Regions from separate parts of the Homo sapiens genome. Here region 2 is linked to region 1. The links come from fine-mapping of genetic effects on gene expression. A gene starts in region 1. The other region holds a variant in brackets. All regions are shown on one strand. Distances are between the middles of the regions.

What was found. PIP is the estimated chance that this variant, and not a neighbour inherited with it, causes the effect.
Region 2: its variant is fine-mapped to the expression of HHEX in whole blood (TOPMed, PIP above 0.99).

Annotation. Positions count from the first base shown.
Region 1 is chr10:92,684,287-92,695,848 of GRCh38, reverse strand. HHEX (hematopoietically expressed homeobox) reads right to left here and starts at 5,894. Exons shown (of 4, transcript NM_002729.5): 1 at 5,502-5,894; 2 at 3,303-3,481; 3 at 3,097-3,147; 4 at 202-1,302. The coding sequence starts at 5,862. The coding sequence ends at 1,081. RefSeq lists an enhancer at 3,776-4,583 and silencers at 5,114-5,263, 5,274-5,353, 5,774-6,093, 6,164-6,403.
Region 2 is chr10:92,714,612-92,726,173 of GRCh38, reverse strand. No RefSeq gene overlaps it. Among named protein-coding and RNA genes, the nearest start is that of HHEX, 30 kb to the right of the region's middle. RefSeq lists an enhancer at 5,343-5,898. The variant G/A (reference allele first, on the strand shown) is at 5,429.

The DNA.
Region 1 (11,562 bases):
GCAGAGCCCCAAGGCAAACGGCCCGGGAGAGGCCCCAACCCACGTTCCAGGCACCCACCCGCGGTCCTGGGACTCGGAACGAGAGCCCCAGCAAGATCCAGCCCCAGTCACTTCCTGTCCCCAGAGCCCAGCACCGCGCCAAGCACCCAGGAGGTCAAGAAAAGGTGTGCAGACTTTTTAAAATCAAAGAATTAGACTTGCAACGAGGTCAGTCGTCCCACGGACGGCTTTATTTTATAGTCAAGTTACTTATTAAAAAAAAAACACATTTTGGCCATTTTTTTTACAGTGAACAATTCTATATACACATTATAAACATTGTTTGATATAAAACAGTATCTACAATCTACTTACATTTAATTAACCTGTGACTTCTAGTTCATCTGCGATTAACTTTAGTCAGGTCAGTTTCTCTGCTTGAATTGGGAGGTACTATCCCCTTAACACCTTGGTCAAACAGGTACTAAGTGATAGTGCAAAACAAGCATTTAAGATTCTCATCAACCATATCTCTGACAAAAAGAACACACATCTCTGAGACAAGAGCTCTGAAATGTTTTTGGATTTGAGACAGCAGTATAAGAATGTCATATAAAAGTAAAGAATGTTTTCCTTTTAAAATACTCCAAGGCTGCCTGAAATGTAGGCACCTCTGGATTTGGGGTACCCCTTTGCCTTTCCATTAAGTGGGAGATAAACAGATTACAGAAAAGTCGTTCAAGAAGGTCCTATTAAAACCTTTAAAGCTATAACTTAAAAATTTAACAAAAAGTTCAAAATTAATTTTTTATAAATAGTGAAAACCACTAACTGTTTTTTTAAAGGGGGAAGAATTTAATCACTATAATGTCACTTTATCAAAACAACCTAAGAGCAGTACATAAACTATTTGTTAAGTCAAAATTAAGGTCTCCATGTAGGTTTGTTAATTGAGCAGTGCACCAAATATTTTTAGGTTTCCAGAATACCAGAGAATTGATTCCCTTTCTTATATAGCCTTCCAGTTCTTCTATGAAGATTTTCTGTAGCAAAACATTATTCCTAAATCCAGTTTTCTGAACATGCCAATGCCAGTGGTCATCATCCAGCATTAAAATAGCTTTTATCGCCCTCAATGTCCACTTCCTGATCAGAATCCTCTGAAATCTCTGATTCAAGGTCTTCCTGGGAGGCAGGGGAGGGCGAACATTGAGAGCTATCCAAAGAAGCACCTTTATTCTGTTCACTGGGCAAATCTTGCCTCTGATCACAGGAACTGTCCAAACTTTCCAGTTCTTCTTTTTTATTGCTTTGAGGGTTCTCCTGAATAAAGGAAATGAAAATGGAGATTGGAAGGATCATAAAATATGGATAGGTGAGAGGAATAAATCAAAATGTCTCTTCATCCTATTCCATCTTTTAATTTTTAGTTTACTGAGTGTTTTCAGTTTATAATCTTATTCAGGAGATACATACTTGTGCTTTTTGCTCACTTTGGAAGAAAAGTTTCTGTCATATCAAAGATTATATGCTTAAAAGATGAGAACCAGTCATGAACATAAGGGCAGATACATTATACCAATTGAACACAAATTCTGGTTACTTAACACCAGCCCAGACCCATGGTTTCAATATTCTCAAAAGTTTAAGGGGGAAAGAAAATCAGATCACTACAGATACACCTTAACTTCATTCTTTAAATATTTAAACCTTGCCAATTAACAGTCTTTCAGACATTTTAAAAATAAGAATGCTAACTGGTGAATTAAGAATAAAGTTTCAATTATTAGACTGGATCTTTTTTCATTCATTTTCTGGAGTAAATTTATAAACATCTACATGTGTAAATGTTTAACAAGTTACAAAATCATGGCAAAGAAAAAAAATGTGGATCTGGAAGAATGCTGCCAACTGAGAAGGTAGACAATTAGCTACAATTTACTTAAAATCTGGGGCAAATTTCTGGGAAATATCCCCATATTACATAGAAACCACTATTTTTAAGGTCTCTGGTAAACTAGAGTCAAGCCTTTGACCAAGAACTATTAAGTATATAAGCTAGTGAATTTTTAATCCTATACTTGTCTAAAATGCATATAAATACTACATAGAAATATTACAACATCTATTTGTTATATAGTTGCAAGCCTTATAGTCTCAACAAATAGATGCACACGGTCAGAAATTGAGAGTGGATCTGCAAATATTTAAATCACATTACAGTAATGAAGTTATGGGAATTTTATTTTCTATTTCAAAATATTCTTTGGGACACTTTCTTTTTAATGAAAAAGTAATGATCAATAAATTTTAAAATCCACTTTGCTTTAAATTTCTCCACTCATTGTTTCAAAGTATTTATTATAAACCGTATATACAATGACAAGTGAACAATTCAGCAATTATCAGATAACTTTGGAGAGTATATCCAGATTAGGACATCAAAAATGAATGTTTAGCTTTAAGTCAATAGACCTTCTTTTAAAAACTAAATTAGCCTTTACTTTTTATCACATATTGCGAAACAAGGTCACTGGAAGAAAGACTGTCAGAAAGTTTAAGCTACTTTCCAAACAGGCTTGAATATTTTCTTACAAGTTTTATATTTCATTTTAAGAGCTGGCATTAGATAGAAAATAATTTTTAAACTCCCTGACATTTAATTCTTCTAAAAAACAGTGCAAACAAGACTTAAAGGTGTTTGTTTCTTTATATTTACCCTTGAGTTCTGCCTGGTTTTATTATGGCTGTGTAAATAAAAGAAACAATTTTCTCCCAAAGATAACTGCTTAAGTCATTTACTGTCAATTACTTTATCTTTCCTGCGTTAATTAGATAAACAACATATGGGATTTATAAAACAATTAGCTGGGAGTTTTACTAGCCAGTGTGTGAAAACCCAAGCATAATTGATATAGGAACCCCATTAGGTGCTTTTAGCATTACTGCCACCTGAGCAACTCATCCTGAATTTCAGCAGGACTATTTGTCTTTTTAATCAAGGTGAAGAGGTTAAATAGTCTCTTAAATGACTTTTGCATACAACCCATAACAGCCTTGCACTGAGATAACGTGATAAAAATATTTATTTCCATAGAAACAGAACCATGTCCATACCTGTTTTAGTCTCCTCCATTTAGCGCGTCGATTCTGAAACCAGGTTTTGACCTACAGGAAAGAGAGAAAGAAAACTTGCAACGAGCCCGCGTCGGGACGTGCCAGAGGGCAGGGTGGCTCCTCGCCTCTCTCTCGGTGGCCCGGCGACCCCTACCCCAGAAGCCTTCCCTTCCCCGGAGGCGGCCCCAGGCCCCCCGCGAGCTCACCTGTCTCTCGCTGAGCTGCAGCATCTTGGCCAGACGCTTCCTCTCGGGCGGAGAGAGATATTTCTGCGTCTCGAATTTCTTCTCCAGCTCGATGGTCTGGTCGTTGGAGAATCTCACCTGGCCGCCTTTCCTTTTATGCAGAGGCCTCTGCAAGAAGGGGCTCCAGAGTAGAGGTTTGCCTGCGAGCGGGAAGAGCGGCGCTCACCCACTGCCCTGGAGCGGCCTGGCCAGACCCCAGAGCTGTCGGGCCCCAGGGATGACAAAGGTAGGCCAGGAGGCCACCCAACCAGACACATTCACATACACCCACCGGCACGTGGACCTAACACGTTCCCACCGACACACAAACATACCCAAAGTCACACACTGACACCGCAGATGCACACAGCCTTGTACACACACAGACAGACACACAGCCGTCACACCTAGAACTAAATCCAGACATACCTTTAACCCCAAAAAGAATGGGCACTACCGGCTGGGCTTACAATACCACGACCCTCTTTCCCCAGTGGCTCTCGGATTTATACATAACTTTTTGCCCCCTTGGATCTCCCTTGGTGAGCCGCACTTGCGAACACCGGGTGTGTGCGTGTTGGGGAGGAGCGGGGCTGCTGCACCGACAAGGCCTGGCTGCGCGGGAAGCGCTCGGGCCCGGACACCCGCATTAGGTTGCGCGAGGAGCCTCCAATCCTGGCCGGGGGAGCCGCGGCCTCCTCTGATTTCACACCCAGCCCGCGGGGGCGGCCAGTTAAAGCCACCCCATGGGCTATGGCAACATTTCCGTCAATGTGTTTCCTGTTGGTCTAGCTCGAAAAACTCTTTGCTTCCTCCTGCGCGGTCCCAGCAGTAACCCAAGGAAACTCAGGGCGCACTGTGAAAACGTTAGCCCCCAGGCCCGGCCCGGCTGAGGGTCCCGCTCCAGCCCCGACAGGCGACCACAGCCAGGCTCGGGCCGCATCATCAAACCCTCGAGGCTGGAATCAGACAGACAGGATAACAACTCAAAAACATAAAAAGATGAACTAAAAATACAATCCCCCTCCCCTGTTAACGGTGAGAAGGTAAGGTAAAGGGCTGAGCTAGAGCCCGCGCCGTAATAATGGAGACATTAAAATGCTAATTAAGACGTTAATTGTTTTCAGGGTCCCTACTGAAGCTTCCAATAACAGAGTTCATTTAAAACTCTAGAGGCGCCCCGTTTCCTTATTTACCCTAGGGCTCCAGACCTCGAAGGCGCCAAGGGTCACCCACAGCGCGGACCACGGGCGGCTTATTTGTTAGGCCGCACATTGAGGGGACAAGCCCCGAAGTTCTGGAATATATGCCCTATGTGTCCCTGCTTCCCTTCCTAACTGGCGACCAGGAGCTGCTGCTTCCTACTCCCAAAGTAGTGTCGGTCGGTCCGTCCGTCCGTCTGCAGGCCTGCACCTCAACGCTTTGAAAGCTAGCATTGTTTTTTCGAGATTTTGCTTGCGTCAGGCTTCAGACTGGTGCAAAACAGCCTCGAAAAAAAATAGGAAGCAACTGGTTATTTTAGCTGCCATAAAGTCACATCCCACACAGAGGAAATGAACAATATCAGAAAAACGGATCCCGGCTATCAGAAGTCGAGTGTTTCCTGAATTTGTCTGTATTGAGGATGTCGATAAAATAATCAGCAGCGTGCACTACTCCGGGGGAAGGGTCTGCTTCATGCAGCCAGGAAAACACTTAACAGCTTCTGAAACCAGATTTACTCCTATCGAGAACTCAAGATTTCCTGTATGAACGGAAAGGGTCAGGCTCTTTCACTGCACAAGCCTGTTGAACCAGGTCCAGCCCCGTAGCCACCCGGGCCCGGCTGCGATCCCTGCCCCACGGGGGCCGGCCAGGGGCGCCTCGACGCCCCTTTCCCCGTCCCTCCCGCTAAGGGAGCCCCACCCCGGGTAACACGCGCGGTCCACGGCTGCCCTCGCCGCGAGGTCTACCGCCGGCCCGCGCGCCCCGACGCCTGCAAGGTGCAGGAAAACCAATCTGAGTCACGGTGCGGTCAGCCCCGGCCGCGCGCCTCCCGTCCCCGCGCGTGCCCGACAGCTGCTTTTCCATCGCTTTTGCCACAGCCGTCTACCGCCTGCCCCCTTCGCCCCCTCGGCCTCCCGGGCGCTGCCACCTGCCGGGTGGCGCTTCCTCGCCCCCACCCTCGCCCGGCCGCCTTACCCAGGGGGTCGTGGCGGAGCAGGGCGTGCGTGTAGTCGTTCACCGTCCGCGGGAAGGGGTACAGAGGGCCCCCGAAGCCGCCGGGTCCGTAGGCAGCGGCCAGCGCGGCGGCGGAGTGGTGCGAGAAGGCTGGATGGATCGGCGTGGGCTCGTACACCGGGGTCCGGTAGGGGGACACGAGGCTGGTGAAGGAGGAGTTGGGGGACGGCAGCGTGGGGGCGGGCGTGGGCGCGGCGGGCCCGCGGCCCAGGATGTCCTCGATGTAAAAGGGCGTCGGGTGTGCGGGTTGCAGCAGCGGCGTGGGCGCGTACAGCGGCACCCCCACGGCGCCCGCCGCCGGCCCGGGGTGCGGGTACTGCATGGCTCCGCCGCGCTCCGGCCCCTCGCAGAGCTGCTGGCCCGCGCCGCGGCGCTACATTTATCCGCGCTCCGCGCTCCCGGCGATAGGCTCCGCCGGCCGCGGGGTGGGGCCGCGCTCGCTGGCCCCTTCCTGCCGCCGGGCCCTGCGGCCAATGGCGCGGGGCCCCAAGAGCAGCCGCCCGCCCCCACCCCGGCCCGCCCCGCCGGCCAAGCTCCCCGCCCCCGGGACGCGCTTGCTACCAGGCTCCGGGGAACTGGCGCCCTGGTGCCCCGCCGCGGCTGTCGCCCCTGGGGACTCCAGGCACCCCGGCCGAGGACGCCCTCGAGGGAAGCCCTGGGCCGCGTCCGTCGGGGGAGGCGCGAGGAAGACCGCCTTCTGGAGTGCGGGCTCCAGCGGCCCTGTCCGCGGCCCCGAGGCACCTCTGCCGAAATTCGGGGGCGCCGTCCAGGCCTGGGCCCGGGGTGGCAGCAGCTGTTTCCAGGCGGGGAGCAGCGGGACTCGGCGGGAGCAGAGGCCGCTGGCCTAAGACGCCTCCTCGGTGGGTGCGCTCCCTGGATTAACAGTGGCGCTGGCTGTCACACCGGCCGTTTCCCGAGCTCAGAGCGGGACAGTGCCCTGGGTTCCTAGGGCTGCTCGGCGGCCCTTAGCTGCGGCCCGGCGGGATTCGGATGGCTGGAGTTCAGGTGCTGCGGACTCTTGGCCGCTCCACCTGGTTTCATTTGGAGGCCTCGGACTCAAGCCACTTCCGCGAGGATGCTGGCAGAAGCCGCTGCGAGCAGCAATCAAGGGGAGGCCCGGGTCCTACAGCGCCGGGCAGAGGCTGTGCAGTCTTCAATCCAGTGGGGGCCGCTCCGTGTCTTTTCTGCTGGCTCTTGAGGGTCGCAGCTGTGCGCAGTCTGGCTCTCTGGTTTTGCACGTGTTTTCTATTGAAGCAGTCCGTACTGCTGGCCCGTATGGCCTCGGCTCTGTGCGGCTCCACTCGCCTCCGGGGCAAGGGGGCATTTTCTTGATTGACGCCCTCCTGCGGTCGTCACACCTCGCGGTGAGCCGTTTCTGCTAAGGTCCTCCATTAATCATGGAAATGGAAAGACTTCCCTGCTTTTTCTATTGAGACTTCTCAGGTTTTAAAGTTTATAATTTGGAACTATTTGTCCAAACACAGCGGGACCACAGTAGGAAGAGGCGTGGACTGTGAGCCTGACCGCCTGTTCGAGTTTCACTTCGCACATTTTTGTTGAGCAACTACTGTGTGCCAGCAGTGAAAAGGACAGATGTAGTCCCTCTCCTCATGGAGACAGGAAACAAATTTTAATATATGTATGTGCTAGGAAGGAGATGTACATAATGGTCTAAAACCTGTAACAAGGGGACATCACCTATCTGGGGGACATTAAGGAAGGGAAAAGCTTCCCAAGAATTGATGTTTGAAAAGTGAGTGGGTGTCAGCAAGCCCAGGGTGCTTGGACATTCCAAGTCCGGAGAATAGCATGTGAGCGTTGTTAGTTAATGCAACTTCCGTCAAGTCACCATCCCTGAGTTTTTCTCATCTGAAACGTTTGAGACTTGGCCTAAAGGCTCCTGATCTTTTTAGGGTATTGTTAATAGGTATCTTTCAGAATCTAATGACAGACAAGAGCTACAAGCCCAGACAAACTCAGAAGTGTACTACACTATCATTCGAGTTAAAGCATGTTGGGGGTAGGTAAGAATATAATTGCTCTATTATACAGTACATATAAATCATAAATTTTTATATTACTCCATGATATAAACTATCTCTGGAAGGATAACGAACATTGGCTGACTATGAAGAAAGGGGTGGGATTGGAGGGGGCATGTATAGCTGTGAATATCTGGAGACTTGCACTAGATGGATGTATGACCTATTCGTCGTATAAGTAAGTCCTTGAAGAAGTGGCTGATTCTAGATCTAGGGCAAGAAAAGTACAAGGTAAGCTCAAAGACATCTTGTGTCAGAAACCGTGAAAAGAAAATAGGGACCACCTTGGAGTGGTTTCCATCGGCAAAATTTGGGGTGATTTAAGCTTTAAAAATACATTAGGGATTATACCACTTTGAATATAACAATTCGTGAGTCCATAGTGGTACTCAGAGAGAGAAAGGTGCAGTGGATGTGAAAGCTGGAAGAATGTCAGCTAACAGATGTAGAAAAATTGGTACAATCGAAAAACGTAATAATTCAAGAAGAATCATCATCAACTAACACGTGAAATGTTGAGGATGAGGATTTTCACAAGGCCTCATATCATCCCAATTAACTGGATTCTGGATTTTAAAAAACTATAAAGGAGCCGGGCGCGGTGGCTTACGCCTGTAATCCCAGCACTTTCGGAGGCAGAGGCGGACGGATCACGAGGTCAGGAGATCGAGACCATCCTGGCTAACACGGTGAAACCCCGTCTCTACTAAAAATACAAAAAATTAGCCAGGCGTGGTGGTGGGCGCCTGTAGTCTCAGCTACTCAGGAGGCTGAGGCAGGAGAATGGCGTGAACCCGGGAGGCGGAGCTTGCAGTGAGCCGAGATCGCCCCACTGCACTCTAGCCTGGGTGACAGAGCCAGACTCTGTCTCAAAAAAAAAAAAAAAAAAAAAACTATAAAAGACATTGCTTTTTATTGGGGGGGGGGATAATGGGGACAAACTATGAAGTATATGTTAGTTGACATTATTAATCTTTTAGATGTGATTGGTATTGCAGGTTACTTTGGAAAATGCGATCTTGGGAGTTGCAAGCTAAAGTCTTTAGGAGTGATGGGTCATATGTGCAGCTTACTTTTAAATACTTCAGTATATACATATATGTGCATACACATCTACATGTATATTTATACACACATATCTATGTATATGTTCATATATGTATATATAAAGAGGGATATATCACAGGTTCAGTTCTAGACCACTTCAATAAATAAACATAGCAATAAAGCAAGTCACATGAATTATTTGGTTTCCCAGTGCATGTAAAGGAGGTTATCTTTACACTTTACTACATTCAGTGTGCAATGGCATTATGTCTTAAAAAGCAACGTACATACCTTAATTTAAAAATACTTTGTTACTAAAAAATTGCTAACGATTGGCAGGGAGTGGTAGCTCATGCCTGTAATCCTAGCACTTTGGGAGGCCAAGGCTGGCGGATCACTTGAGGTCATGAGTTGAAGACCGGCCTGCCAATATGGTAAAACCCTGTATCTACTAAAAATACAAAAATTAGCTGGAAAGTGCTTGAACCCGGGAGGCAGAGGTTGCAGTGAGCTGAGATCATGCCACTACACTACCAGCCTGGGCAATAGAGTGAGACTCCATCTCAAAAAAAAAAAATTGCTGACAATCATCTGAGCCTTCAGCAAGTCATAATCTTTTTGCTTTTGAGGGGTGTTGCCTTGATGTGGATGAGTGCTAACTGATCAGGGTGGGAGGCACAGAAGGTTGGGGTGGCTGTGGCAATTCCTTAAAGACAACCATGAAGTTTGCCACATCTGTTGACCCCTCCGTTCATAAAAGATTTCTCTGTAGCATGTGGTGATGTTTGATAGCATTTTTATCCACAGTAGAACTTTCAAAATTGGAGTTCATTTTCTCAAACCCTGTGCTGCTCTATCAAGTATGGTTGTGTAATAGTCTCTCTTTTTTGTCCTTTTTTTTTTTTCTTTTTTCCTTTTTGTAGAGAATGGAGTCTCGCTCCATTCATTGCCCAGGCATGTCTCGATCTACCGGGCTCAAGCTATGCTCCTGCCTCTGCCTCCCTAAATGTTGGGATTACAGGCATGAGCCATTACATCCAGCTATGTAATATTCTAAATCCTTTGTTGTCATTTCAATAATGTTCACAGCATATTCACCAGAAGTAGATTCCATCTCAAAAAACCACTTTCTTTGCTCATCCATAAGAAGTAACTCCTCATCCATTCAAGTTGTATCATGAGATTGCAGCAATTCAGTCACATCTTCAGGCTCCACTTCTATTTCTCTTGCTGTTTCCAGCACATATGCAATTACTTTCTCCACTGAAATCTTGAACCCCTCAAAGTCATCTGTGAGGGCTGGAATCAACTTCTTCCAAACTTCTGTTAATGATATTTTTACCTCCTCCCATGAATCATGGCCTCTGGAATGGTGAATCCTTTCTGGAAGGGTTTTACTTGACTTTGCCCACAGAGGAATCACTATCTATGGCAGCTATAGCCTTACAAAATATATTTCTTAAATAATAAGATTTGAAAATCAAAATCACTCTTTGATTCATGGGCTGCAGAATGGATGTTGTGTTAGCAAGCATGAAAACAACATTCATCTCTTTGTATATCTCCATCATAGCTCTTGGGTGACCAGGTGCATTGTCAATGATCAGTAATAATTTGAAAGGCATATTTTTTTCCTGGGCAGTAGATCTCAACAGTAGGCTTAAAGTGTTCAGTAAACCACACAGTAAAATGATGTGCTGCCATCCAGGCTTTGTTATTTTATTTATAGGGCACAGGCAGAGTAGATGTAGCATAGTTCTTAAGGGCCCTAGGATTTTCAGAATGGCCAATAAGCATTGCTTTAAACTTAAATGTCAGCTGCATTAGCACCTAACAAGAGAGTCAGACTGTCCTTTGAAACTCTGAAGCCAGCATTGACTTCTCACTAGCTATGAAAGTCCTAGATGGCATCTTCTTCCAATAGAAGGCTTTTTGGTCTACGTGTAGAATCAGTTTAGTGTAGCTACGTTCATCAATGATCTTAGCTAGATCTTCTGGGTAACTTGCTGCACCTTTTCTATTAACATTTTCTGCTTCACTTTGCACTTATGGTGATGGCCTCCTTCCTTAAACCTCGTGAACCAACCTCATCTAACATCCACCGTTTCTTCTGCAGCTTCCTCACCTTTCTCAGCCTTCATAGAATTGAAGAGAGTTGGGGCCTTGCTCTGGATTAGGCTTTCGTGTAAGGGAATGTTGTGGCTGGTTAGATCTTCTATCCAGACCACTTGCACTTTCTCCAGATCATCAATAAGGCTGTTTCACTTTTTAGCATTCATTTGTTCATTGGAGTACCACCTTAAATTTCCTTCAAGAACTCTTCCTTTGTGTTCACAGCGCTGTCTAACTTTTAGTGGATCTTAACTTTCTACATGGCCTCCTTGCTGAGCTTAATCATTTCTGGCTTTTGATTGAAAGAGACATGCAATTCTTGCTTTTCCTTGAACACTTAGGGGCTGTTGTAGGGTTATTAATTTGCCCAATTTCAATATTGTTGTCTCTCAAGGAATAAGGAGGCCCAAGGAGAGAAGGAAAGAGACTGGGGAACAGCCTGTGAGTAGGACAGTCAGAACACACGACATTTATTAAGTTAGCTGTCTTATATGGGTGCAGTTTGTGGTGCCCCAAAACGATTACAATAGTAACATCAAAGACCACTGATCACAGATCATCATTACAGATATAACAATAAATATTATGAGAATTACCCAAATGTGACACAAAGACATGAAGTGGGCACATGTTCTTGGGAAAATGGTGCCAATAGACTTGCTTGATGCAGGGGCGTCACAAACCTTCAATTTGTAAAAACTGCAATATCTGCAAAGCACAATGAAGTGAAGCACAATAAAATGAGGTATGCCTGTATCGAAAATTATTAATTGGTGAATTTAGGTGAAGAGTATACAGGTGTTTGTTGTACTATAATTTCA
Region 2 (11,562 bases), 30 kb before region 1:
TGGTTTTCCATTTATGGTAATAATGTTAAGTACTCTTTAAAAATGAATTTCTTTTCTTTTTTTTGTTTGTTTTTCAAGATGGAATTTCGCTCTTGTCACCCAGGCTGGAGTGCAATGGCGCGATCTTGGCTCACTGCAACCTCTCCCTCCTGGGTTCAAGCGATTCTCCTGCCTCAGTCCCCCAAGTAGCTGGGATTACGGGCATGTACCATCATGCCCGGCTAATTTTGTATTTTTAATAGAGATGGGGCTTCACCATGTTGGTCAGTCTGGTCTCAAACTCCTGACTTCAGGTGATCCAACGGCCTCGGCTTCCCAAAGTGCTGGGATTACAGGCGTGAGCCACCGTGCCTGGCAAAAATAAACTTATTTTCTAAGTGATTTTATGTAAAGAAAGCTGGTTCAATGATAGGAAGGGTGGTACATGGATATGGCAAAAACCAGGAGAGCCATATGGGAATGATTGAAGTTTGGGCAGCGCTGCAGGTATCCAAGAGAGAGAGGTGGCTCCTCAGGAGAAAACTAAGACACTAAGGAAATCAAAGCACATCTGGAGGACTGTGAAGGAAGAAGAGAAAGATTTGATATCAGGTTAGGTATTCACACCAGAGAAGGATAGTAACTAAAGGAAAATCTCACCTTGAATGTGTGCTTGTTTGACTGTGTGACATTGTGAAAAGCAACTTAGCAAAAGTTCTCTTTGTCTTTGCAATGATGACTGGTTAAAAAGTGAAAATCCCAGTCAATTAACTGGCTATTTTGTTTACATAAAGGCAACTCATCACTTTTTTTTTCAACCAACAAACTGACAGGTTAAACACACACACACACACACACACACACACACACACACAAGCCTGAATTGAGCAGTTGTTTTGGCACCATTCTGAATTGCTCTGAACAGAAACTGAACATTATAATGTTGAAATGGAGTTGACCTTTCCATGCAAAAAGGGAGCAGCTTTACACCTAGTAGTTTGCGAGGGTAGTGTACAACTTTCACCCTCCATCAAAATGTCCTCATCACTCACAGGCAGGGGTCTGACGTGTATGCCACTTGGTTTATGAGAAAAAGCAGAAATCGAAATTAAGCCACCATCAACTGTTAATACCTCCAATCAAACTAGCTCCAAGATGAGATCAGGAGCTCTGGAAGAACAGGTCCTTGAGGAAGGGAGGTCTTGGGTGGCTGAAGAACTTGGGAGGGACTGACAGGGGTCTCAAAGAGGGGAGTATAGTCACACAGCTGGAGGGTCCTGAAGGCCATTTTGCCTGCTTACCCATTTTGATCAAGGTCACACCAGCTGGGATTAACATGAACCAATCAGCTGGCATTTATGAATATTAGCTTAGTTTATTGTTGCTGTTGTTGTTATGAAATATTTCAAATATCAAGGAAATTGAAGGAATATCTTAATAGCCAGTTAAATACTCATCACCCAGATTGAATAATATTAACATTTTTTAGCCCTACTTTCATGAGTCATCTTTGTAAAATGTGTTACAAGTGCAGTTCCTTGGGGGCTCTGGAGCAAATCATCTAGCAAACAAGACCTTAGATGTTGTCCAGGGCTATCCCACTGTTACGGACTGAACAGAATTCATATGCTGAAATCTTTACCCCCAGTGTGACGGAATTAGGAGGCAGGGGCTTTGGGAGGTGATTAGATCATGAGAGTAGAGCCCTCAGAAATGGGATTCATGCTTTTCTAAGAAGAGACATGAGAGGTTGCTTCTTGTGTCTCTCTGCTCTCTGCCATGTGAGCACTCAGTGAGAAGACAGCCATCTATGAACCAGAAAGTGGGCCCGCTCCAGACACTGGATCTGTCGGTACCTTGACCTTGGACTTCCAGTCTCCAAAACTGTGTGAAAGAAATGCTTGTTGTTTAAGTACCCAGTCTGTTATATTTGTTCTAGCAGCCCAAACTAAGACACCCACCCTACAATAAGGAAGAGAACAACAGCCAGGAATGGCCAAGTGCTTCATTAGTTAATAATGGTTTTTGTTTGGGTTTTTCTTAAGAATTTAAAAATCTTTTCTTTTTAATTTTTTTTTTAAGAGATGAGGTCTCACCCTGTTGCCCAGGCTGGAGTGCAGTGGCACAATCATAGCTCACTGCAACCTCCAACTCCTGAGTTCAAGTGATTCTCTCTCCTCAGCCCCCTGAGTAGCTAGGACTAAAGGCATGCACCACCACACCTGGCTAATTTTTTCAGGTAGGTGTGTGTGTGTGTGTGTGTGTGTGTGTGTGTGTGTGTGTGTGTGTGTGTAGAAAAAGGATCTTGTTATGTTGCCCAGGCTGGTCTCGAACTCCTGGCCTCAAGCAATTCTTGCACCTCAACCTCCCAAAGTGCTGCGATTACAAGTGGGAACCACCGCACCTGGCCCTCCATAATAATGTTAACAACAACAATAATGACAATAACTGACATTTATTCAATGCTCACTCTGTGCCAGGCCCCCTGCTAAGTGCCTTATGGGCATCATCCATTTCACCCTCACATTGATACTATGGGGTTGTCAGTATGATTCCCATTTTAGAAATAAGCATCGAGGCTTTGAGATTTTAAGACACAACCATGGCACAGCTGGAATGAGCTGGGATGCCACATACTACTGACCCCACTGGAGCATGGGTGGAGCTGATGTGCTTCACCAGCCATTCTTCTCTTATCACTTCTATCTCCCCATGACCTAAACCAAAGGGATTCCCAAGCCTCGCTGTGCACGAGAACCACCTGGGGAGTTTGCTAAAAATAAGATGCTCAGGCCATTCACCTACTGAATCAGAGTGTTCTAAGCTACAGCCCACAAATCTGTACTTCAAACTACCTTTCCAAGTGCTGCTGGTGCGCAGCCGGCTTGGGAAACTGTCTAGAGCTATTGACTTTTCCAGCCACCTGGAGCCAAAGAATCTAGGCTTCAAGACCTCCTGCCCTTCTCCTCCCTTCACAGTGGGCTGCTCATGTAGCTTCGCTTTATATATATTCATCATGTCCTTTGATGAGAGCTAGGACACCGTGTCAGCCCAAGGATGCCTGGCTGTTTAAGAAAATTCAGACCTCTGGGCCCTCCTGCCACCCACCTCCTGTTCAAAAATAGAGTTGTTGCATGCAAGCAGAGGCCAGGTGACCAGGACACAGGGGAAGACATAGCCATCAGCAGCTGCCCCACCCCTCCTTTCCCTGTCCGGCAGCTGAGGAGAGGCAGTTCTTCCCTGTGTAGCCATCAACTCTCCTAGTCAGTTGGTGTCCAGCTGGGCCCTGGGTCAGGAAGTTCACAGCAGTTTAGTCAGTATCATTGAACTGACTTTACAGCATCCCCGGGAGGCAGAACCATGGAAGGTTAGCCAGAGGAGGGACTAAGAGGCCACCTGGTCATTTTACAGATGAGAAACTGAGGTCCAAAGAGGGAAAGGAAGGAGAGGTATCCATATTTTGATCCATATTTATCTGTAAGAAGATTCAAGCTCAAAGGGATGTTGAGGGGCTTACCCAAGTCAAATAGTGTTCAATAGGCAGTAGGTTAGTTAGTTGGTTATCCAGAACAAGGAACAGAATGGCCCACTGGAGTTACCAAATTAGCTCTCTGAACTGTGAGCAGATCTCTGTCTGGTACATATTGATTGGATGGGTTTGGAAATTATGACACCTGCATCAGTAGGTACACAATTATTTGGAAACTCATTCTCAGAAAGCAGTACACATATTGCCCAGGGGGCAGGAAAAGAGAAAGAAAGAAAAGAAAGCCATATGCATATTGCCCCAAAACTTTTTTTTTACAAAAAGCTCCTGCCCATATTCAAAACTAGAACTGATTGAACTGTCGACTCCAGACATGTGATGAGTTCAGGGCTTACCAATACCTTGGCCTGGCTCTTGGCCTTCTTAAATCATTTCTTTTTCCATAACCTTTCATGATTGGTCATTATTAAATGGTTCTTGCACGTTGTCAGTTCAGCTATTAATCAAATCAAATATTTCCTTTTTTTTTACGTTTTAAAATGGTAAACAACCAGTGCCACAAAGTTTCTTGCCTATGCTATAAAAATCTCCAAACATTTCTGGAAAATAATAGCCAAGGTTCAGTGAGCATTTTCTATGTACCAGGCACTATTCTAAGCACTATGTGTGCCTTCTCTTATTGGACTTCTGCAACAACCTTTTGCAGTAGATACTATTCCTATCCTTGCTTTATAACGGAAGGAATCTGAAACTCAGAGAAGCTCTGCAACTCTCCTAAGGTCATACAGCTAGGATTCAAACCCCGTCAGGCTTACTGCAAGACCTGCCCCCTTGACTGTACTGTTCTTCATAATTCTGGAAATAGGATATGAGATATTGAGAACCACCTATTTTATAAACATTTCAATGAACAGTTTTTTAACTCTTTTTGGAGACAGGTCTCACTCTGTCGCCCAGGCTGGAGTGCAGTGGTGCAATCATAGCTCACTACAGCCTCAACCTCCTGGACTCAAGCGATCCTCCCACCTCAGCCTCCTGAGTAGCTCAGACTACTGGTGCCCCCCACCACGCCTGGCTAATTTTTTTAAAAAAAGTTTTGGCTGGGTGCAGTGGCTCATGCCTGTAAGCCTAGCACTTTGAGAGGCTGAGGCGGGTGGATCACGAGGTCAGGAGATCGAGACCATCCTGGCCAACATGGTGAAACCCTGTCTCTACTAAAAATAGAAAAATTAGCCGGGCGTGGTGGCACGAGCTTGTAGTCTCAGCTACTTGGGAGGCTGAGGCAGGAGAATCACTTGAACCTGGGAGGCAGAGGTTGCGGTGAGCTGAGATTGCACCACTGCACTCCAGCCTGGCCACAGAGAGACTCTGTCTCAAAAAAAATTTTTTTTTGCAGAGATGAGATCTTGCTATGTTTCACAGGCTGGTCTCAAACTCCTGGCCTCAAGTGATCCTTCCACCTTGGCCACTGTAAGTACTGGGATTAGGAGTGTGAGCCACCATGCCCAGCCTCAATGAACATTTATCGAGTGCCTTTGATAGTGAAAGTCCTGCAGTATATACAAGGTCAATGTAAGAGATAGCCCTTTCTCTTATAAAGAGTCAGATAGGTATTAAATTAATGTACCAAAAGGCAGAATGTCCTAAGGACTACATTGGAAACAGATAAAGTACAATAAAAACACATAAGAAGGATGGTTAATAGTGAGCAATCAGCAATGACTTCCTGGAGGAGGTGGCATGTGTAAGCTCCTTGAATGACAAATAATGCACCACTGGTAGAGATATAGGAAGGGCAGCTCCCAGCTGCCAGACAGTGTGAAATAGTGAGTGGGGTCAAATCCAGGTTTCATCACTTCCTAGCTACACAGCTTCATCTCTAGCCCTCGGTTTCCTCATCTGGCCAAGTAGAGGGCAATTACATGAACCTGTTCAGGCTGTTGTGGGATAACATCTCTGACA[G/A]TTTCAAATAGCGCACAGTAGGGCTCCCTGATGCTCTGTTCCCTTTCAGGTTCACTGAGTCATTTCAGAATCCACTGCTCTAGGGCCACTGTCCAAAAAAGCTTCGTCTGTATTCCTCTGGGAAAACACTCTTGTCAAGGCTACACTTCAGTCAAATATTCAACAGCAGGCCACTTAAACTCACAACAGGATTTGTAAAGGAAATGAGCACTGAAGCTTAACTTCAGTAGTGTGACGAGGAGCTACTGTCATAGAACAAATGGGTTGTTTATCAGCTTTCTATCTGTCCCTAACAAAACCATGTGAAATGAGGCATTCAGCCCCTGTTTTTTTAAAAAGATGACAAACACTAGCTAATTTACTGGAGTAGAACATATTGAGCCAAATGTTTAGTTTTGCATTAAATCTATATCTAGCATTTTCATTAAAGGGGGCAAATTGTAGACTTTACTGATGCTTCAGTGCCCATTTCAGATTAATGCTTAACATTTAAAACTGTGCATGAAATTGCAAATGTATTGGCAAACACATAAGAAGGAGCAGACTAAGTGCTATGTGCTTATTCATAGCCAGCCATTTCTGAGGCTGCCAATGTGTTATTAAGGTGGTTATTTCCCTACACTTGCCTAGGCTGTGAATAGTTAGTACCCCTGATTACTTAGTTAAATACGCTTCTAGATGGAGAGAGGGAAGGCATGGAAGAAATGAGTGATTATCTAAATTTTGTGCAATGAACAATTAAGTCATAATATACTTCTTGATTCATGGTTGATATTTCCAGAGTAATTAGGTTAGTATCCTTCAGAAAAAGCTCTTCACTTCCATAATCATCATACATGGCCACATTTTAGCTGATGTAGTTGAGGAATAAAAAGGACTAAGGATCTTAGAGAAAAAATAATTTTTCAAACAGAACCTTAATTTTTTGCCACCATTAAAACTAGTAAGATGATACTTTTCCCTGTTGTGAGATGAGAACTTTGGTTTATTTTCTGTAATTTTAAACCTTGACTCAGATATTGTCTGACATGTGGTTATCCAAATGACTGGAGAGAAACTCTGTAGTGTATTTCACGATCTAGAGTATTAAAAATTAAATGCAATGAAAAGCAATGTAATTTGGTACCAAGAAGCAAGCTAGAGTAATTTTTATGAAAGTGGGTTTTGGAATCAGACCCTTTGGGTTTGAACCCCAGCTTTGGTCCCTACCAGCAATTATGGACGGGCAGACCCACCTGAATATGGGATGGAGGAGAGAGGTGGTGTCCCATGAGCAAAAATAAAAAGGGTGCAAGGAGCTGAAAACAACAGGTGTCTAGGCTACTTCAAGGGATGGTGATGGAACTGAGGGGCACAGAGCAGAGAGACCAAATGCCCACTCTCAAATCCCTGGGGTAGACCAGGGCCCAGAAGCCAAGGAGTTTTAATTTGAGGCTGAGAAATCATTTACAACTAGGATGAAGATCCACAAAACAGGTTGGCATCCAGCCCTACTATATCATAGCAGCTCCATATTCAGGGTCTGCCCCAACCACAGCAGGGTTGGTGAGCACCAGCCATCGGAGCAAGCCATATAAACACAGGGGCCAGGAAGAGATTTCTTATTGGTTTCAGAGAGTGAGATGGGTGTGTCAGAAAGGAGAGTCCATGGAATGATCTAGAGACTTCCAGACATTTTATTTTGACTTTGTGTCTCATTCATCCAGGTATCCTTTCTGAAGTCTTTTGTTGTTTTTGTTTTTGTTTGTGTTTTGAGATAGAATCTCACTCTGTTGTCCAGGCTGGAGTGCAGTGGTGCAATCTCTGCTCACTGCAACTTCTGCCTCCCGGGTTCAAGCAATTCTCCTGCCTCAGCCTCCCAAGTAGCTGGGATTACAGGTGCCTGCCACCACGCCCAGCTAATTTTTGGATTTTTAGTAGAGACGAGGTTTTGCTATGTTGGTCAGGCTGGTCTCAAACTCCTGACCACAAGTGATCCACCCGCCTCGGCCTCCCAAAGCACTGGGATTACAGGAGTGAGTGACCACACCCGGCCATCTCTGAAGTTATAGCATACAAGATGAAACACGGACTACTGACCAAGGCCGTTGCTGAGTGCCTCGGTATCACCCAGAACCTCCACCCAATCTCCAGGATGGCTTTTGGTTCTAGAAATACCCACAACAATTCTGTTACTATCTTTACGGATCCTGGCTTTCTATTTTGGTTCCAGGTTCCCAGACAATAAAACATCAACATCCAGCCTCTATTTTCCGAACGGTGTTCACAGAATATTAATTCTAAGGGAAATAATGAGTGCTACACAAGCAAAGGGTTCTATGATCAAACAAACTTTAGGGACACTTTGTTAAACAAAGTTAAATTTATTTCTCAAGGCCAAGTGTGGTGGCTCATGCCTGCAATCTCAACACTTTGGGTGGCCGAGGCTGGTGGATTGCCTAAGGTCAGGAGTTTGAGACAACCCTGACCAACATGGTGAAACCCCGTCTCTACTAAAACTACAAAATTAGCCAGGTGTGGTGGTGCACGCCTGTAATCTCAGCTACTTGACAGGCTGAGGCAGGAGAATTGCTTGAACCTGGGAGGCGGAGGTTGCAGTGAGCCGAGATTGTGCCATTGCACTCCAGCCTGGGCAACAAGAGCAAGACTCCATCTCAATATATATGTATTTCTCTATTTTGCAGGAATTCTCAGGGTCTTTAAGATATGAATGTGCCATGTAAATATCCAGAAGAGGATAAGACATGACAAATTTCTCAAGTTTATTCGACCCTAGGATCCTTTCTTTCTCATATCCCACACTCTGTGAGGCTGGCATACACAAGAGAAAAATGGATAACCAGCCGGGCGCGGTGGCTCACGCCTGTAATCCCAGCACTTTGAGAGGCCAAAGCGGGCAGATCACCTAAGGTCAGGAGGGAGCTCGAGACCAGCATGGCCAACATGGCAAAACCCCATCTCTACTAAAAATACAAAAATTATCTGGGCATAGTGGCGGGCACCTATAATCACAGCTACTCGGGAGGCTGAGGAAGGAGAATCGCTTGAACCCGGGAGGCAGAGGTTGGTTGCAGTGAGCCAAGATTGTGCCACTGTGCACCAGCCTGGGTAACAGAGTGAGTGAGACTCTGTCTCAAAAACAAAACAAAAAAAAACCCCGCAATGTGTCAAATAAATACATTAAAAAATGGATAACCTATAAGACATACAAAACCATAATTTTGTTTTAGTCCATCAGCGAATTGCGCTGTTATACAAAGCAATCAAGGGAACTGAATTCCTAAGGCTCACAAGTCCTTCCAAAAAGGGACAAGACACACCAGCTGTTTCCTCTTTTGGCAGAGAATGGGAAGAACAGACAATCATCAGAAAACTGGATAAGAAGAAAACAAATTCTTACCGGCAAAGGATAAGCTAGCATGGCAGTTTAGAAGCCCTGAGCACGCTGGACACAGAGAAATCCCCATCTGCTTGCCATCCTTTTCCACTGGCCTCTACTCGGCATGCATGAGAAAGACTGGAAACAGCACAGTAGGCCTGGGAGACCCTTCCCCCTTGGTGGTACAGCCCTACAGCACCTGCCAAGGTTTTAGGGTGGAGCAGGCATACCTAGGGAAGCCCATTCATGCTTTGAGCCTTGTCTGAGGACAAGGTAGTGCCTGTCTGCCCCTGGGGGAGGGGCAAGAAACACACTCTGATATAAATTAGCGGTCTACTATTGCCAGGTGAAGGACAGAAATCTCTCTTGGGCCCCAGACACTCCACCACTACAAAGTCAGAGTTCAGTAGCTACAGGAGAAAGGGGAGGAAACCTGCCTGTGCTCTAGATCCAGAACTCAGCAGGAAGCAGAGGTTATCCCTAGGAGAAGCCCTGAAATGTTAAAAAAAAAAAAAAAAAAAAAAAGTTACCACTCCAAGAAATTATGCATGTCAATGAAAGGGTCAAATCAAGGTAGACAGGGACAGACTGGCTGGTTGGGAGACTGGGGAGAAATACAAGGACAGTATAGTGGGCACTGATGTTAGCAGACCTGGCCCAGGATCCAGGGTCACCCCCTAATAGCTACATGACTTTTGCAATGTTATCCAAAGTCTCCAAGTCTTAGTTTCCTACATGTAAAAAGGGTGAGCCGGCCACGTTGGATCATGCCTGTAATCCCAGCACTTTGGGAGGCCGAGGTCGGCGGTCACTTCAAGTCAGGCGTTCAAGACCAGCCTGGCCAACATGGTGAAACCCTGTCTCTACTAAAAATACAAAAGTTAGCTGGGCATGATGGCAGACGCCTGTAATACCAGCTGCTCAGGAGGCTGAGGCAGGAGAATCGCTTGAACCTGGGAGGTGGAGGTTGCGGTGAGCAGAAATCATGCCACTGCACTCCAGCCTGGGTGACAGAGCGAGACTCCACCTCAAAAAAAAAAAAGAAAAAAAAAAGGTGAGAGTAATGGAATCTTCCCCAGAGGAATGCTGGGGAACTTGGAGCCATGTAAAACACGTGGCATAGTGCCTGGCACATAGAAAACAATCAATTGCTTTGATTCCAGCAGTTGTTGGAAACTGATAAGGAGCGGTTGCAAAAGGCACTTTCCTATTTGTAGAGGAAATTAGTTGTTTTTACCTGACAATCTTTCAGTTCCTCTTCTTCTGTTAACATCTCCCTAGTTTTCTTCCAGGAAGCCCCTTATCCACAATCAATTTACGTGATTCATGTGGCACTGACCCCTCCCCATCCCTACCTTTAGGAGTAGGGATATGACCACATCCTGGCCAACCATCATGTTCCATGTCTGGGCTGTAGCGATAAGTTCAAGGATGAACACGCATGTATGCCAAGGCAGCCCAATGAGAGACAGTCCTGAGACTTCTCATGAAACTATTCTATCTCCTAAAGTTGCTAAGCCTGAAGTTGTGAGGATTGGGAACAACTATAACTCTCAGGCATTGCTAGAGGGAATGCGACATGGTACAGCCACCAGGGTGGGCTGAATAAGTGTTCCCCCCAAAATTCATGTCCATCCTGAACCTAAAAATGTGACCTTACTTGAAAATAGAGTCTTTGCAGATATAATTAGTTAAAGTAAGATCATACTTGATAAGGGTGGGCTCTAAACCTAATGACTAGTGTCCTTAAAGGAAAAAACCGGTCGCTCACGCCTGTAATCCCAGCACTTTGGGAGGCCGAGGCAGGCAAATCACCAAGTCAGGAGATCAAGACCACGGTGAAACCCCGTCTCTACTAAAAATACAAAAAATTAGCCAGGCGCAGTGGCAGGCACCTGTAGTCCCAGCTACTCAGAGGCTGAGGCAGGAGAATGGCGTGAACCCGGGAGGCGGAGCTTGCAGTGAGCCGAGACTGAGCCACTGCACTCCAACCTGGGCGACAGAGCAAGACTCGGTCTCAAAAAAAAAAAAAAAAAAAGGGAAAAACACAGAAAGACACAGGAGAGAAGGCCATGTGCAGATAAAGGCAGAGATTGAGTAACACAGTTACAAACCAAGGAATTCCAAAGTTTGCAGGAGCTACCAGAAGGTGAGAAGAGGAAGGAAGGGTCAGGCTAGTGGCTCATGACTGTCATCCCAATGACGGCAGCTGACCATGGCCACAGACCCAGGCCTCCTGCTCTACTGAGCAGGCAGGGGCCCTGCCCCCCTGGGTGGGGATACGGGCACCCAAACTGCAGCTGTGGACGCAAGCCTCCCCTCACTCTTGAGGGTGGCCAGGAGCAGGCAGGATCTGCCCTCCTGGGTGCAACTGCAGCCCCTGGACCTGCAGCTGTAGACCTGGGCCTCCTGCTCCACAGAGCAGGCAGGAGCCAGGGACAAGCAGAGGAAGAGGCTTCCAAGTTGGAGGGGTGGTAGCTCCCAGAGTGCAGCTGCAGCTGCCCTCCCAGGCACAGGACCCAGGCATCTCTGCAGCCTGCACCCGCGGGGGCCCAAGAAGGCCCCTCCCCAAACATACCTGCAGGCCTGGGGTTGTCTGCTCCCATTGCCTGGCCTCTCCTCTCCCAGTGCCTGCTCCAATCTCCAAGCAGGGTTGGGGCTGAGCCCCGGGGTCATGAATGGCAGCAGAAGGCAGACAGATTCCTGGAGGGAAGGGAGCAGGTTCCAGTAAGGCCACACCTTCAGGCCAGAGAGG